2 separate regions of the Homo sapiens genome follow, and region 1 is linked to region 2. The links come from fine-mapping of genetic effects on gene expression. A gene starts in region 2. The other region holds a variant in brackets. All regions are shown on one strand. Distances are between the middles of the regions.

Evidence for each region. PIP is the estimated chance that this variant, and not a neighbour inherited with it, causes the effect.
Region 1: its variant is the best candidate, but not a certain one, in a credible set for the expression of IREB2 in thyroid (GTEx, PIP 0.67).

What each region holds. Positions count from the first base shown.
Region 1 is chr15:78,471,017-78,476,402 of GRCh38, reverse strand. IREB2 (iron responsive element binding protein 2) reads right to left here. Exons shown (of 22, transcript NM_004136.4): 7 at 4,479-4,662; 8 at 3,022-3,161; 9 at 44-215. Among named protein-coding and RNA genes, the nearest start is that of HYKK, 34 kb to the left of the region's middle. The variant T/A (reference allele first, on the strand shown) is at 2,537.
Region 2 is chr15:78,435,290-78,440,675 of GRCh38, reverse strand. It overlaps IREB2 (iron responsive element binding protein 2), which reads right to left and starts at 2,460. Exons shown (of 22, transcript NM_004136.4): 1 at 2,320-2,460; 2 at 795-881. The coding sequence starts at 2,338. RefSeq lists a silencer at 2,006-2,245 and enhancers at 2,716-2,775, 2,846-2,925.

The sequences.
Region 1 (5,386 bases), 36 kb before region 2:
GGAAATGTAACATGTTTATTCTAGTGATCTTTTATCTTCTTACCTGTATGTTCTAAATGTTTTAATGTCACATTGTCAACAGGGAAAAAGCTGAGGATAGCACCATATTCCGGACACATGTTTGCTATTGTAGTTCGATCAACTATAGATAATTGTGAAACTCCACTTCCAAAAAACTCAACAAACTTTCCAGCCACTCCTACTTGCCTGAGGTGCTATATAAGGAATACACAGAAACACATACAAAATTGCAAAGATAAGATTAGCAACGATTGTCTGAAAACTATAAAATAAAATTTTTAACCAATACTAGTGATGGTGAAGGAATGAGATCCTTCATTGTCCTTATGAATCAACTCATTCTGGTTTTGGGGGTATTTTAAGATAAGAAGTAAAGAGAAGACTGGTCCAATGTCACTGTTAATCAGGGTAGAAAGGGGCCTGAAAGCTCAAGGTGGCTATAATTAACATTTTCATGTCTTTGAAATCAGGGTACCTCAACTCAATAGTGTGTCTGTTTAGGTGGCAGCCCTTTTTCTTTCTTTCTTTTAGAAACAGGGTCTCACTCTGTTGCCCAGGCTGGAGCGCAGTGGTGTGGTCACAGCTCACTGCAGCTTCCAACACCGTGGCTCTAGCAATCCTCCCACCTTAGCCTCCAGAGTAGCTGGAACTACAGGCATGTGCCACCGCACCCAGCTAATTTTTAACTTTTTTTTTTTTGTAGAGACAGGGTCTTACAATGTTGACCAGGTTGGTCTTGAACTTCTGGCCTCAAGTGATGCTCCTGCCTTGGCGTCCCACAGGTGTGAGCCACTGCACACAGCCCTTTATTCTTTCTTAGCAGTGCATAAAACAGTGGTGTTTGCTAACCACTGATGGCATCTTAGACTTAATGAAATACTAATAGACTGATGAAACTGTATATTTAAATAAAAAATTATATATTGGCTATAAACATTTTTCAAATTATAACTACTGGCCCAAATGTTTACAGCATCTTTAATCACAGGCAAATCCCACTTTGGTAGAATTTGTTAACATGTGGTTTCAAACTTAATTCCTTCTAAAATTATTTTTCTTGGTTATTATACTATCAAGTAACCCAACCAGTTATTTGTCTTTTCTAAATTGTAAAATGGTCTCAGATTGGTATAGGAAGAGTGACTAAGGAGGCGACTAAGAATGAAACTATCCTCGATCTATGAATAATATTAAGCCCTAACATTTTATAAGTGCCAGGGATCACTTAATCCAAACCCTTTTTTATAGATACAGAAACTCAAACCCTAAGTGTAAAGATGTTTCCTCATTTATGGTTTTTTTTTTTTTTTTTTTTTTTTTGAGACAGAGTCTCGCTCTGTCGCCCAGGCCGGACTGCGGACTGCAGTGGCGCAATCTCGGCTCACTGCAAGCTCCGCCTCCCGGGTTCACGCCATTCTCCTGCCTCAGCCTCCCGAGAAGCTGGGACTACAGGCGCCCGCCACCGCGCCCGGCTAATTTTTTGTATTTTTAGTAGAGACGGGGTTTCACCTTGTTAGCCAGGATGGTCTCGATCTCCTGACCTCATGATCCACCCGCCTCGGCCTCCCAAAGTGCTGGGATTACAGGCGTGAGCCACCGCGCCCGGCCTATGGTTTTATTTTTTAGGATGAAAGAAACACAGATTAGATATTACAAACCAAATGCTGCTCTCATCAAAAAAACAATACAGGATTATTCCTATAAGGATCACAAATGGAACAGGATCTCAAAAAAGAAGTAATAATATATTCAATAAATGTAAACATATATAATAGATTAATTTTTTAACATTAAACTAAAATGTCAAAAAACACACAGTAATATTGTCAGGAAAAAACAGCTAGAGAAGGCTAAAAAGCAGCGTTAGTTTTCAGGATGTCTAAAGTAAAGAATTGATTTCTGTAAAAACATAATGGGATACTCCTTTTCCTCTAGGAATAATCCTGCAATTCCCAATTTACTACTTGATCTTTTGGTATCATACGTTGAATCAATAATTTCTCTAAGATGCCAAATTCTTTTCTAATTAGGGAAGAAGGATCAATACCAAATGCTGAGAGGGAGGCATTATCATTTCCTTACACTGGAGTATCCGGAAAGCCTTCGTACCAATAATCTAACCAAAAATGCTGAGATTGGGACTCAAATTGGAATTATATGTGGAACATTTTCCAGGTACATTCATTTAACAAAATAGGATTTAATCATTAAAATAAAGTTAGCAAAGGCCAGACATTTAGGAAGAAGAGTTACAAATTATTGTTCACTAGGAAATCCGTGAGCCTGTGTATTAATATGCTTAACAAGCTCAGTGTATGTATTGAAGTTCTGAAGCCAGTATTTTAAAAATTCAGAGAGAAGATTTTTACATAATAATCCAGAGAAATGTTAAAACGGCAACAGAAAAATGATATATCACATTTCTACAGTCCATGTTTTTGAAAGCATTACTTAGTAGAGCAACAGTTTCTAATGGGCAAATAATTTAATTAAAGACGACACAATCAACTTTTGC[T/A]AAACATTTTTTTTAAATTCAAGTAAAAAAGAGAAAAAAAATAATGTAGTCAGCAAGTGTTTATTAAGGCAACAAGGCACTAATAAGGCATAATGGTTAAGACAATGGACTCAAGAATCTGACTGCCTGGAATCTTTGCTCTACCCCTTACTACTCAGGCCTTCGACCCTTTGGTAAGTCACTAAACCCTACTGTACCTTAGTTTTCTCAGAGTTACAATGAGAATAGTAATAGTATCCATCTCACAGGCTTGTTATAAGGACTAAATGAGCTAACATAAGTGAACACAACAAATTTCTTTGTATTTATTAGTACAAACTAAATGCTCTGTTTGTTGTTATTACTATGATAACTATGATGATGTGGCTAACGTCAAGAGACCTGAGGATGCAGTAATGAACCCAAATCCCTGCTCTCATAGAGCTCTTCAATTTTTATAAAAATAATGTTCAGTAAGTCATAGAGCTACCACAACTTTAACTTACCTTTGTAATACCAAGAACAACATCTATGGATGTAACAAAAGGGTTTGATGACCCAGTTAACTCACATCCAACCACCTCTGGTAAAGTAAGAGAAACTGGCAGACCAAGCATAACTGCTTCTGTTTCAATGCCTCCAACCCCTAACGTAATAAAGACAGGTATATTAGCACAGTATATTTAAAGATCATTTATCTCTGTAACATCTGAATCTCTAGGTGTTTCATGAGCTTATCTTACACAGTACTTTGCAGAGTTGCTATATTGCTATTAATGTGGACACTGAACCCAAGGCTTCCCAAAAGAAATGATTCCACTCGCACGGTCGAAAAACTATTATTTTACCTTTATATTCAAGGTAAAATATTAGTTTTAAGTATATTCAAGTTAAAACATTAGTTTAAGTATTCATTATGTTAGGCACTGCACTGTATTCAAGATACAGATATAAACAGAATCCAGTCCCTGCCAACCTCAACAAGTTCAGTCTAATGAAAAAGCACAAAAAAATCAACATTTATAACACCCTGTGAAAGAGTAAGCTTACAAAGTGAGGTACACTGAACTCAGCAAGGGAGTTAAGACTTTCAGAAGATAACTGAGGCCAGTCTTGGATGAGTTAATAGTAGCCACATTTCAACAAAGTCACGGTCGGCAGAAAGCATTCTTCCAGAAGAAATAGCCTATGCAAAGTCATGGCATATAAAAGAGCATAGCTAGCTGGGCTCAGTGGCTCACGCCTGTAATCCCAGCACTTTGGGAGGTCGAGGTGGGTGGATCACTTAAGGCTAGGAATTCAAAACCAGCCAGGCCAGCATAGCAAAACCGTATCTCTACTAAAAATACAAAAATTAGCTGGGCGTGGTGGCACGTGCCTGTAGTCCCAGCTACTTGGGAGGTTGAGGCACAAGAATTGCTTGAACCCAGGAGGTGGAGGCTGCAGTGAGCCAAGATTGTGCCACTGCACTCCAACCTGGGTGACAGAGCAAGATGCTGTCTCCAAAAAAAAAAGAAAAAGAAAAAAAAAAGAAAAGAGACAGCCCACGTAAGTAAAGAAATGACTAGTCTCTCTAAGATGGGTGTGGGTGAGTGGCTAAAGGGACATGCCTTGTATAAAATGGCAAGAAATCTGGACTTATAAAGAAGACCAGGAGAAGCCACAAAAGTACCTTACACAAAGAAGCAAACTTTGTAGACGTATCATCATCATCATTCAATTATTCAATTACTTCACAAATAGTAGTGCTGTGCTAGACACTGTGTAAATTTCTTCTCATAAATCCTCTTTTACAACACTGATCACAAACTCTCAATTAGGATTTTGTTGTTGCTGCTGTTATTACAGATGAAAAACACAGAGCCTCAAAGAGGCTATACAAACTCAATAATTTATGTTCTTTTACAATGTTCTTGACATCCTTACCCCAAAAGAAATGAAATATATTTAGTCATTTACTTACCCCACCCCAGAATCCCTAAACCATTCACCATCGTTATGTGTGAATCTGTGCCGACTACACTGTCTGGGAAGAGGAGGTCTTTTTCTTCAAAAACCACTCTTGACAAATATTCTAAGTTTATTTGATGAGCCATTCCAGTTCCAGGAGGGATCACTGCCACATTCTTAAAAACTCTTGAACTCCACTATATTTTGTTTAAATTTAAGAAATACAAATGTTAGTATATAAATTTGTGCTCACAATCAAGGTGTAATATTAACATTAAAAATATTTTAACTAATGTTCAATATGGTAAATACAAAGTTCATATCACATAGTTAAAAACAAATATACAGATACTGAACCTAAATGTATTTTTTATTAAGACAAAATTAATTTAGGTCAAATAAAAATGTTCAAAAAGTCCAGACAAATGGCAGTATTCAACTGCGTTCCAAAGATTCTCAGGAATGAGAAGGAAGAAAGGCTCAATGTACAAGGCCCTCCCTCCAAGCTCTCTCTCCTAAACTAGAGCCACTGTTTTCATCTTTCTCTACACAATAGGGTTTCCAATTAAGATTTCATTTGAGGAACAAAAGCGTTCTACTACTATAAAACCTTTAGAAACTACTAAAGTGGCTGGGCAGAGTGGCTCATGTCTGTGATCGCAGCACTTTGGGAGGCCAAGGCAGGCAGATGGCTTGAGGCCAAGAGCTCGAGACCAGCCTGGCCAACATGGCAAAACCCCGTCTCTACTAAAAATACAAAAATAGCCAGGCAGTGGTGCACATCTGTAATCCCAGCTACTCAGGAGGCTGAGGCACAAGAATCGCTTGAACCCAAGAGGCAGAGGTTGCAGTGAGCCAAGATCACACCACTGTACTCCTGTCTGGGCAATAGCAAGACTCTTCCTCAAAAATAAATAAATA
Region 2 (5,386 bases):
AGTAAAACAGGCCAGGCATAGTGGCTCAGGCCTGCAATCCCAATACTTTGTGAGGCTGAGGCAGATGCATCACTTAAGGTCAGGAGTCTGAGACTAGTCTGGGCAACACAGCAAGACCCCAACTCTACAAAAAATATAAAAATATGTTTTTATATAAATGTGTTGGCATACACCTGTAGGCCTTGTTACTTGGGAGGCAGAGGCAGGACTGCTTTAGCCCAGGAGTTCAAGGCTGTATGAGCTATGATCACAACACTGTGCTCTAGCCTGGGCAACAGAGCAAGACTCTGTCTCAAAAAAAAAAAGAAAAGAAAAGAGAAAATAAAATATACATTTAATTGGTGTAGAATTATCATCAGTCAGTCAGGTTCTTCTAAAAATCACATTAGGCCAGGCGCAGTAGCTTACATGTGTAATCCCAAAACTTGGGGAGGCAGAGGTGGGAGGATTATTTGGGCCCAGGGGTTCAAAACTAGCCTGGGTAACATAGCAAGACCCCTGTCTTCACAAAAACAAGAAAAAAAAAAGTTTGAAAACTGCATTATTGGTTTCTTTGAGGGGAAAAACTAGTGCTTAATTAACTTAGATTTTTAAATGAGAAGTTAAGGTGTGGGCCTACATCTTCCCTGAACAGAAGTTGTCCCAGGAGGAGTTTTTAAAATGGTATAGGTATGTGTAGGTGTACCTGTTACAATACGGTGGAAATACATTTAAAATTTCTTCAGCTCAGCTTGACAAATGCATTTTCATTATTAGAGACTAAACAAACCCAAGAAAATGTAAAGCAACATTACCATACTTGGTGCCAAGTTTAGATACATCGAAGAACTTCTTATGTGAACTGTCATTTAATGTTTCAATAAGGTACTCAAAGGCGTATCCTGAAAAAAAAATTGTATTTTCATTAAATGCAGCAACAAAATATTTTATTCAGCTGAAAATACCTGGAAACTAGCTTTATCCAATAGAATTTTCTGCAATGGTAAAAATATTCTATGTTTGAGCTGTCCAGTAAAGTAGCCATTAGCAACGTGTGGCTATTGAGCACCTGAAATGTGGCTATCGTGCCTGAGGAACTGAATTTTTAATTTATTTAATTTTGATTAATTTAAAGTCACACAGGGCTAGTATCCACCACACTGGAAAGCATAGTTCTAAACCATAATTTGTCAAGTAAAAACTAGTAAGATAATTCACTCCTGAAATGTGATAAGAATACCTGGAAAGGGACAATAAGAATGATTTAAATAATCCACGGGGACGTTTTGGAAAGACATGTCTTGAAAACTGCAGAGACAGGAATTTGTGAATTCCACAATTAACATTAGAGGGACTGATTAAAAAAAAAAACTAAAAGACGGATTTTTACAGAGCATTCAATAAACCAAAACAAAAAAACTTCTCAGTTAAGTCCTTACCAGGGCTTAGTACTGAAAATAAAAGTAACAGAATCTCTAGGAAATTAGCATATTCTACCCGAAAGAGACAAGTCTTCTGGTTTTGCACGAACTGAAGCTGAACTACTAAGTCAAAGATCCAGAGGTCTCATTTAAACGTGCCTCAGCTCCCAACATTCTAGGGGGCAGTGGCGGGGAGGCAGCCCTGAGGTTGAAAAGAACCTTCAGATCTTTTGTGCAGACTCATAGCGGTGGGTGGCCAGGACCCTCAACATTGTTAAGGCTTTCATCCAAAAGGAGAAAACATAAGCACAGCCCATTTTCAGAATGAATAGTATTTTTTTCTCTTTTTTTTTTTTTGTAGAGGGAGGTGGACGGGGGAGGAGACAGCGGTGCAATAAATGGTCGGAGAACTGACTGACCAATGTTCAACCTTGACTGCCCCTCATTCGGCTTCCAGAGGCACAGAGAGACTGAGGGGCCTTAGGCTGGACCGTGGAATCAACATCTAGCTGCGTGAGACCCGAACACGGAGACGCAGGCCCCCGCCTTCATCGCTCGCCAATGGGGGGCGGGCAGGAGAAGACGGTGGGCCTCTCCCTGCCCCTGGTGTTGCTGACGGGGGCCAGGAAGCCGCTGGCAGCAGGCAGCGGCCACCGGAGAGAGAGGGGTGCGGGTCAAGGCCAGCGGTGGGGTGGCCCGCCCTGCGGGTGTCGCGCAGGAGGGTGGGGATCGGGAGCCCCAGCTTCCGCGGCCTAGGCTCAAAGGGCGGCCCAGCAGGCAGGCCCCGAGGGGAGCACAACCCGAGCCCCGAGGGCCTGGGCGCCTGCCGAGCGACTCCAGGCGAGAAAAGCAAGGAATTCGGCGCCTAGGCAGCGCGCGTTTCCAACTGCCAGACCCAGCTCGGAGGCCCGAAACTGACCTGCTTTTGGGGCGTCCATCGCCGGAGACCATATTATCCCTCCGGGGAGGGGGCCAGCGGGGGAAGAAGGGGGAGGCCGGGCAGGGAAGACGGGGAGGAAGACAGGCGGACTGGCAAGGGAGGAAAGAAGGAAGCAGGCTCGCGCAAATATCGCGAGAGCAGCAGAGCCAGCCCCGGGTCTGCGCTCGCGGGATTTGTCGCCTAACTCCCGCGAGATCGTCGGACAGGAAAACAAAGAAAGGGAAGGGGCGGAGCTAACCAGAAAGCGATTTCTCGCGCCGTCGCCGCTGTTCTCGCGAGCGGGGGCGGAGCGCTGGGGAGGCTCCAGTGGGGGCGTTGGCGTGGCTAGTTTGGCCTTCGCAGCGATCCGTTACTTAGTTGCGGCCTTAAGTTTTCTATTGGGGTCATGAATTCGAGCGGTGTTTGCGTTCCCGCAAGGTGTCTGTTGGAGTCAGGGTCGGAATCGGAACTGCTAGGAGAAAGAGCTCAAGGAGAACCGCTTTCCCCTAACTATAAAGCCTTGCATTAACTTGTCAGACGTGGGCGGCCCACACGCGTGTTTTCAAGTGGGGGCGGCCATACTGATCGGGCGCGTGGGAGGCGCTCAACTGTTGAATGAATGAATTTTTTCTTACCCTCCGGTAGCTTCCGTGATTGCCGACTTCTTCCCAGTGGCAGTTAACACATGCTTAAGCCTCTCCATCCTTCCGCCTCAGCTCCTCCGGTCCCTGTGTTCTCCACCTACCCAGCATTATCTCCTGTCGCAGCAACTTACCAGAAAGAGTCGCTCATACTCGGCTCTCCCCCACCCACTTCTTATCCTCTTCCAGTCTGGCTTCCACTCCCAGAAATGCCTTTAGCCAAGGCCAGCTATAACTCCACTTTCTAATCTCACATATCTCAATCTTGACTGGTTCTCTCCCATTGTTGAAAAATACTCTTCCATCAGCTTCTGTGACTTCAGACTCTACTTTTGTTTCTTCTCCTAAGGGTGCTTGATCTCAGGCTCCTCTGCAGACCTCTTCCTCCGCCCAGCTTTTAAATGTACTGGGCACTTGATGGGCACAGTAGCTCATGCCTGTAATTCCAGCACTTTAGGAGGCCAAAGTGGGAGGATGGCTTGAGCTGAAAAGTTCAAGACCAAACACAGCAACGTAGTGAGACCCTATCTCTACAAAAAAAATTTAAAAATTAGCTGAGTGTGGTGGCATGCACCTGTAGTCTCAGCTACTCAGGAGGCTGAGGTGGGAGGATCACTTGGGCCCAGGAGATTGAGGCTGTGGTGAGCCATGATTGCACCACTGCACTCCAGCCTGAGCAACACAGCAAGACCCTGTCTCAAAAAAAAATATATTGGACATTAAATGTGTCCCAGGGCTCTGGCCTTGTACCTCCTCCCTCTGTCCATTTTCCCTGGCCCATCTCACACTTCCTTTGACTTCAGTTATTAGTTAATATGTTGATGCTTCCCAGTCTGCCTGTGACCTGAGCCTATCTCCTAAACCCGGAGGTGTATATCCTAGTACCCATGGGATGCCTCCACATCCCAAGGCACCTCAAACTAAAAATCTCCAAAACTGAACTCGTCATTTCCCTCCTTAAACCTACTATTCCTTTTGTATTGCCTGTATTAGCGAATGGCGCCACCATCCACCTGGTTGCCCAAGCCAGAAATCAACACATTATACCTGACTCCTTCATCCACTCCCTTTAATCATTGATCCAAGCCCTGTCAACCCAAACTCCAATATATTTCCTTTATTCACCTTGCTATATTTTGTAACATCTCCTTTACAATCCCAGCATGAAATTCATAGGTAATATAATCTACATACACGATAAATAATCTACTTAATGACCTAACTGTAATATAAAGGAGAAAAATAGGAAAGTAATTTATTAGAAAATAATATGTATTATAATACGTAGCTGCACAGGCATGTCTATATTAGATGACAAAATTGAGTAGTCAGATGCTTGTATCTATTTATAACGAATGAGTTTGGTTTTACAGGACATATAATATTCGACTGGGCCAGGCACAGTTGGTAGCTCAAGCTTGTAATCCCAGCACTTTGGGAAGCCAAAGCTGCAGGATCGCTTGATGCTAGGAGTTTGAGACTAGCCTGGGCAACATGGTGAGACCCTGTCTCTACAAAAACTTAAAGAGTTAGCCAGACATAGTGGTGCATGCCTGTAGTACCAGCTACCGTGAGACAGAGGCAGGAGGATCACTTGAGCCCAGAAATTCAAGATTACAGTGAGCTATGATTGTGCCACTGCACTCCAACCTGGGAGACAGAATGAAACCCTGTCTCAAAAAAAGATAAGGCCGGGGCGGTGGCTCACGCCTGTAATCCCAGCACTTCGGGAGGCTGAGGCGGGCGGATCACGAGGTCAGGAGATGGGAGATCATCCTGGCTAACACGGTGAAACCCCGTCTCTACTAAAAGTACAAAAAATTACCCGGGCGTGGTGGCAGGCGCCTGTAGCCCCAGCTACTCGGGAGGCTGAGGCAGGAGAATGGCGTGAACCCAGGAGGCGGAGCTTGCAGTGAGCCGAGATTTCACCACTGAACTCCAGCCTGGGCAACAATGCAAGACTTCGTCTCAAAAAAAAAAAGATAATATTCAGCTGAATATGGTCAACACTTTTTATGTCTGACATTGCAAAATAAGGATTCAATATATACATACATATCATGCATAAATATATATTATGAATGCATATATGGTAAATGCACATATGTATAAAATGTACATATATATCATGAATGGCCTCTAAAGACTAATGAAAATATGTTAGTGACTTAAATATTGGAAGTGTTGTCACTATTGTGATTTTCTGAAATGGTGAATAACTCTTGATAAAGTTCAAAACAAAAAAAAAAAACCTTTGCTTTTTTTATGCAATAGTTGTATTCCTAGAAAATTCCGTATATATTAAAACCATACACAAATTACTTTTGTTTTTACTTGTATATGGGGTTAAACTCTAGGCTCAGATAATTATAAACAAATTTGTTGTTACTGTTTTTATGTTTGTGTGTATGTTTAATGTACTTGAA